Homo sapiens: one gene and its partner. The protein of the gene in region 1 interacts with the protein of each later gene in a pairwise test. Each region holds a gene or a part of one and is shown on either strand. Other genes may lie near its edges.

What was found.
Region 2: the proteins of TEK (region 1) and DUSP18 interact in a two-hybrid assay, tested with the Homo sapiens proteins (one study listed by BioGRID and IntAct).

The regions. Positions count from the first base shown.
Region 1 is NC_000009.12:27,112,098-27,115,848, forward strand, and holds part of TEK (angiopoietin-1 receptor isoform 1 precursor), read left to right. Parts: intron 1-3,751. UniProt on the Homo sapiens protein: Tyrosine-protein kinase that acts as a cell-surface receptor for ANGPT1, ANGPT2 and ANGPT4 and regulates angiogenesis, endothelial cell survival, proliferation, migration, adhesion and cell spreading, reorganization of the actin cytoskeleton, but also maintenance of vascular quiescence.
Region 2 is NC_000022.11:30,661,258-30,665,008, reverse strand, and holds the end of DUSP18 (dual specificity protein phosphatase 18), read left to right. Parts: exon of another isoform or gene 1-54; intron 55-928; 5' UTR 929-1,005; coding exon 1,006-1,572; 3' UTR 1,573-3,564; downstream 3,565-3,751. UniProt on the Homo sapiens protein: Can dephosphorylate single and diphosphorylated synthetic MAPK peptides, with preference for the phosphotyrosine and diphosphorylated forms over phosphothreonine. In vitro, dephosphorylates p-nitrophenyl phosphate (pNPP).

The DNA.
Region 1 (3,751 bases):
CATGTTGGCCAGGCTGGTCTCGAACTCCTGACCCCAAGTGATCCGCCCGCCTCGGCCTCCCAAAGTGCTGGGATTACAGGCATGAGCCACCACGCCCGCCCTTGTCACTTGACATTTTAAATAACAACTGGATTCAGAGATAGCAGACATCTTGTCTGGGGTGGCAGAGGAAACAGTTGTAAGGTCAGGGAAGTGCTCCCAGATGAAACCCCCTTGTTAGGGCTGGTCTCAGAAGGCTAGTGTCAAGTCTGAGTAATCAAGGGTGGAGGTCTGAAAGCTGGGATCGGAGACACCCTTTGGAATTATTCTCAGAGGGAGGAGCTTGCTTTTTTCACAGATGCTCCCTTCCAAGCATTGTCTTTATTGTTTGTTAGGTCTCAGCATTTCCCTTTCAGCCCTGCCCTGGGAGAGCTTCCTGGAAGAGTCTAGTTCTTCCAAGGCGTCTCTCCAGGAGGGAAGGAGTCTTCTAAGTTCATCTCAAAAGACTATGTGATGTTCTCTGGGGAATTTAGGTGGGTGGGCTCTAAATTCTTCTGAAATTATCAGTTTGCCTCCTGAGCCTCTATCTCCCCAAAGGATATCTGTGTGATTGTATCACCTGCTTATTCTCTGTAGATGGCTTACTGGTGAGCTCACAGAATCAGGATTTAAATAGATTGTTCTAGGCTGGAAGGGTGGAAAACCAAAACAAAAAGATACCATTTCAAAATAGGTAAATGTCTGGTTCTGTGTTTGGGTTCAAGAAATAAGTTATGTATATTTAATGTGGGAGAGACCTGGTTTGTTGAAAGTTCTTGTGAATGACACCTAGGTTTTGGGGATACACAAAAGTCATGGAAGACAACATAGGCTCTGCTTGCTAAAAAGGTACTGCATAAGCTGTCATATGTTGTATTAGCAGAAATATGAAGTCCAAATCAGAAATGGTAATCACTTCACTGAAATCTACTGCTAAGAGCACATCCATGAAGCACTGAAGACCTGAGAAATTTAACAGCGAACATAGCAGGCAAACTGAAGGAGGAAACATGGATTACAAAGTCAAAGCCCAACTTGGATAACCATAAGCAAGTTATTTAATTTCTCTAAGCCACATTTTTCTCATCTTTTATGGATGAAATACCCATTTTCCAGGGTTGTGATGAGAATCAAATGTGATAATGCCTGTGAAATGCTTAGCCAGTGAGAACTCTCTTAATAAATGAAGCTTGGGGCCTGGTGCTGTGGCTCACACCTGTAATACAGCACTTTGGGAGGCCCAGGCAGGTGGATCATGAGGTCAAGAGATCAAGACCATCCTAGCCAACATGGTGAAACCCCATCTCTACTAAAATACAAAAATTAGCAAGGTGTGGTGGTGTGTGCCCGTAGTCCTAGCTACTCGGGAGGCTTAGACAGGAGGATCGCTTAAACCCAGGAGGCAGAGGTTGCAGTGAGCTGAGATCACGCCATTGTACTCCAGCCTGGTGACAGAGTGAGACTCCGTCTCAATAAAATAAAATAAAATAAAATAAATAATGAAGCTAGTATAATCAAAAGAGAAGTGTTGCTATGAGAACCACTGTGCTAGTCAAGACTGATCTAATCTGCCCCAGGATGTAGGAGAACCACTTAATATTCATAGATGCTGTCTCTTTCTACAAAACCTCAGTATAATCCTGTCTCTCAAACTTTGTGCTGGCCAATTCCAACTGAATAAACCCAAACACTTTGCCAACTACCCATCTACCCTCCCCTCACTTATCCATTTATCCCTGTTTGTATCTTGTCTGCTTCAACCAGGCCCATCTCCACAATCTACACATTCTTTCCTCTTGGCTCTTGTTCATGCTGTTCCATCCATTTAGAAATGGCATCTTTCATCTCTACTCTGCAAACACAATTCAACTCAATTTGCCCAGGCCAACTCTTCCTCCTGATGTTCTTCCCCTAAGTTTAGGCTCCTTTACCATGCAGATTGTGTCTTTGAGCTTTGGGCAGCCAGATTTAGCCCAATTAGCCTCTAAATCTCTCACAACAGATATTATTTCTTTTCTATTCTCATTAGTACATGTATTTAATGTTTAGTAATTTCTGTTGAATGGAGTTTTATGGTCACAGTAAGAAAATGTTGGTACTTCACAGCGGAGCTGAAAGGAAAAGAGAACATTGTAGAAAGGATCTCAGTAACATCGAAATAATAATATTACATTGGGCCAGGCACGTTGGCTGATGCCTGTAATCCCAGCACTTTGGGAGGCCAAGGTGGGCAGATCACGAGATCAGGAGTCCGAGACCAGCCTGACCAACATGGTGAAACCTTGCCTCTACTAAAAATACAAAAGTTAGCTGGGCATGGTGGCATGTGCCTGTAATCCCAGCTACTCGGAAGGTTGAGGCAGGAAAATCTCTTAAACCAGGGAGGCAGAGGTTGCAGTGAGCCGAGATTATGCCACTGCACTCGAGCCTGCATGACAGAGTGAGACTCCGTCTCAAAAAAAAATAAAAAAAAATTTAATATTAGGTTGGTGAAAAGTAGTGGTAAAAACTGCAGTTACTTTTGCACCAATCTGATAATCAATTTTATATATCTTGTAAATGATATTCACTCTCATCTTAAAAGTTTAGCTTATATTAAATGTTTGATGTAAATAAAGTTGAAAGAAAGTTTCTTCTGTTAGGTGTGAAACATAAAAGATATACTCATAAAAGTGGTTCTAACCAGGGCCTTACTTAAGATGAGGTATTGTATGATTGTTGAATATTACCTATAACATAGTCGTATTTTCTATTCAATAGATATTTATTGAGTTACTGTGTGCCAATCATTCATTCATTCATTCACTCATCTATCCTTTCAATAAACAAAGACTTATTGAGGGTTTCCTTTGAGCCATGTACTGTCCTGGAAACTAGGAATATAAATAAGGATAAATAATTTTTTCCCTTTGCTAAGCTCACATTTTAGTGGGAAAAATGAATATAGGCGGATGAATTGTAAAATGTTGTGATAAATGATTTAATAGAGATATTACAGCAAATAAAGGTATTTACAAAATCTGAGCTTTTCAAGGGCTGTAAAAGTTTTTATTGGGTCCAATGATACAAAATGAAATAGCAATATCTGAATTGAGCATAAAGGTCTGGTGCAGTGGCTCACACCTGTAATCCTAGCATTTTGGGAGACTGAGGCAGACAAATCGCTTGAGCCCAGGAGTTTCAGATCAGCCTGGGCAACGTGGCAAAACCCCATCTCTACAAAAAATACAAAAATTAGCCTGGCATGGTGGCACGTGCATGTAGTCCCAGCTACTCGGGTGGCTGAAGTGGGAGGATTGCTGGAGCCTGGGAGGTCAAGGCTGCAGTGAGCCATGATCATACCACTGCCCTCCAGCCTAGGCAACAGAGCGAGACATTGTCTCAAAAAAAACAACAAACAAACAAACGAAACTAAATTGAACATAAATATTTAATTAAATGTCTAAAAACGTGGAATGTCAACTAAAGAAAATGAGTAGTATTTTGAAAACAACTTGTAGGTTGATTTTTCTGTCTTTGCAAGAACTCCTAAATAGTTGTGAATATTGCCAAAAGTCAGGTCCAGTTATAGTTATAACTTGCTCATAGCCAAATGATTTTGAAACCAAGATGAAAAGGAAAAGGGAAGAAAGGACATAGAGGGAGCAACCTATACAAAGGGGGTGTGTATAAAATAGCAGGGCAGGCTTAAGGAAGCTGAGTGAAGCTGTAATGTAGGATGAAGGTAGAGAAT
Region 2 (3,751 bases), on another chromosome or scaffold:
CTGCGGCTGAACCTCTACCCCAATTACTTAGCGGCGACTGAGCCTATCGAGCAGGTGAAGGGAAGGGGTCTGCCTCTCCCTGGGGTGTGTTTCACAGCTCTGCTGCAGGCAGCATGATGCAGGTGTGGCAGGTCTTCCTAAGGCCCTGCTGTCTCTGTGCTTGTCCCTGGGGTTGCTGTGGTGCCCATTATGCTGGCTTCCAGGAAGCTTTCAGCCACTCCCTTTCCCAGGCCTTCTTCAGAGGCAAGGTGCAGGAGCATGTCTAACAATTTAGGACTTTGTATTTGACATCAGCTTCGCATGGGCATATCCTGTCTCTTTAAAGAGATGGTTCTTAGAGGGGGAAAATGGGAACCCTCCCTACTCTTATACCAGCCTCCTCAGTGACTGCCAGCACAGTGGGCTCTGGTTCCATGCCACTGGCTCAGGACCTTATGATTTGGGCATAAAGTCAGAAGACTGAGGAGGAAGACTGTACAAATGGTTCCCACTCAGAGGGGCTGGAAGGAAGGAGAGAATTTGGAAGAGCAGCAAGAAAAGGGCTCTGTGAGCTTAAATGGAGAATCAGGCCAAGGCACAGCTGAGGGACACAAGTCATCTGCCCAACTAGAGCTGTGGGACCCCTCAAGGGAGGCCTCAAGTGCCAGACTTGGGGACTTGCCATTTGTCCTATAGGGCAGTGCACATTAGACCACCTGAGAAGCATGCTGAAAATGCAGATTCATGCTCTTCACCCCGAGAGTCTGACTGTGGGTTTGGAGAGGGACCTGGGTATCTGTACTTTAAATGAGTTTGCTGGGTAGTTCTGCTGTGATGGTCAGAGGACTGCCTTGGGGAATGCTATAAGCCTATCCATCCATTTCCCAGGGATCCCCTGGAATTGGCCCTCTGGGCACCTGCCCTCTAAACATCCTCTCCCTCTCTGCAGTTTTCCATGGACACAGCCTAGCAGAAAGACGCAGCCTTCGTGCTTCGCTGACTGCTGACCACTGACCCACCGCCTTGATGACAGCACCCTCGTGTGCCTTCCCAGTTCAGTTCCGGCAGCCCTCAGTCAGCGGCCTCTCGCAGATAACCAAAAGCCTGTATATCAGCAATGGTGTGGCCGCCAACAACAAGCTCATGCTGTCTAGCAACCAGATCACCATGGTCATCAATGTCTCAGTGGAGGTAGTGAACACCTTGTATGAGGATATCCAGTACATGCAGGTACCTGTGGCTGACTCCCCTAACTCACGTCTCTGTGACTTCTTTGACCCTATTGCTGACCATATCCACAGCGTGGAGATGAAGCAGGGCCGTACTTTGCTGCACTGTGCTGCTGGTGTGAGCCGCTCAGCTGCCCTGTGCCTCGCCTACCTCATGAAGTACCACGCCATGTCCCTGCTGGACGCCCACACGTGGACCAAGTCATGCCGGCCCATCATCCGACCCAACAGCGGCTTTTGGGAGCAGCTCATCCACTATGAGTTCCAATTGTTTGGCAAGAACACTGTGCACATGGTCAGTTCCCCAGTGGGAATGATCCCTGACATCTATGAGAAGGAAGTCCGTTTGATGATTCCACTGTGAGCCATCCCACGAGCCCCTGCATTGGAGTCAGAGGTACAGATCTATTGTTGATCTTACACCAAGATCCAAACTTGAACATTCTACTTTTGTTGATACAGAAAAAAACAGATGATGCCTTTTATGAGCACAAAAAAGAGTTGCTGTAGCTTTTAACTTTATAATCCATTTTTTTTAAGATTAAACTAATTGTGAGATGGTGAAGATAAATTTTCTGCCCTGTGAGTGACACTGGCCAGGGGATAGGTTGAGGCAGATGGTGCCCAGAAGAAAGAGGGCAGCACCCATTGCACATGGCAGGCCTGGAATCCTGCAGCCCTCCCCAAAAACAGATTGACCCAGGAATGAATCTGCTACAATTCCACCTCATTCTTTCACACCCAGAGCCAGAGCCTTAAGCATCATGGTACCTCTTGCGCTTCTTACAGTGAGTGCCAATCTACTAGATAAATGGCCTTCAGGCAGTGCTCCAGGAATCCTGGGGGGTCCCAGGCCACCTCTGCTTCCACCTTCACTATAAGTGGCCCAGTTCTGGTTTTCTAGATTGTACTTATGCATAAGATAGTTTTTAAAGAAAGCATTCCACTGTGTAAATTTTTTTTTGTCTTTTTTTGAAACTGTCCTGCTCTGTCACCCATCCTAGAGTGCAGTAGTGTGATCATGGCTCACTGTAGCCACAACCTCTCAGGCTCAAGTGATCCTCTTACCTTAGCCTCCTGCGTGGCTGGGACTACAGATGTTTGCCACCATGCCCGCCTCATTTTTTTTCTTTTTTTATAGAGATGAGATTTTACTATGTCGCCCAGACTGGTCTCAAACTCCTGGCCTCAAGCAATCCTCACGCCTCAGCCTCCCAAAGTGTTGATGAGCCACTGTACCCCGATACCACTGTATAAAAAATTTAAAAAAAATTGTGAGTGCTATTGTACATGGCAAAGTTTCAAAGAGCTCTTGGCCATCCCTCACCAAACTTTGGCAAAAGATGGTGTTAGTCCCCTTCTCCAGGGCACATGAGAAAAACAGGCCTAACATCAGGTCTCAGCGGTTCCTCTCACAGGCCTTGGCTTGGAAGGCTGGAGCTTCGGACCAAGGCCCAGCCCTGTCACCTCCTCTTCATGTGATGTGGACCCCTGGGAGCATCAGTGTCCTCATCTGTCCAATGACAGCCCTTTTCTCACAGAGTTATTGTGAAGATTCAACAATTTCTTGGCATAGTGCCTGGCACATGGTGTGTGCTTAGCGCAAATGGCAGCTCTCATCATGAATGATAGACTCTTTCACCCTGCTGGTCCCAGGTCGGCACACACATCCCCATAATGGCATTTCTCCTTTCTGTGCACAGCACTTTATTGTTACAAAGTACTCTTCCAAAAAGTTACCCTGTGTGTAAAAAAAAAAAAAAAAAAAAATGGTTTAAGTCCTTTCAGACCCTACCTCACAGGAGGCCTAGACTTAGAGCCTTTTGAGAGCTTCCGTCTTGTTTAATCTAGGTGCAATCTAGAGGTCCTGAAACAAGGAGCACAGTTCCAGCTTCCCCCAATCACTTCTAAACAGTGACTGCAGCCTTGTTTAGAATCACTATGAAAACCTGCACCCCGGCTGACTACTGGGATCCATAAGGGGGCCGTGTCAAAGGGACTAACTAGTGGACTCCATCAGTAGGCCCTGGAATTCAGGATTGTTCACATCCTCTTGGTGCCAAGGACCTGGCTGAAGACCAGCTCTTCTGATCCAGAGGTTTTCAGCAAACAGCATTTGAAACAAAAGCACAGCTGCTCTGTTTGACACCAAACTGTGGCTCCAGATTCCAGTAGAAGCCAAATGCTTTTTCTTTTAACAGCTGGGTGCCTGTAATCCCAGTTACTTGGGAGGCTGAGGCAGGAGAATTGCTTGAACCCAGGAGGCGGAGGTTGCAGTGAGCCGAGCTTGCACCATTGCACTCCAGCCTGGGCAACAAGAGTGAGACTCCATCTCAAAAAGAAAAAAAAAAAAAAAGAAAAAGAAAAGAAAAAAAGAAATGCTTGGGACCAGAAATATTTTGGATTATTTTCAGGTTAATATTTGCTTTACCTGAAGCAAATATTACTTGAGCATCCCAACTCTAAAATCCAGAATGCTTAAATGAGTATTTCCTTTGATAGTCATTTCAGCTCTCAAAAAGTTTTAGATTTTGAGCATTTCA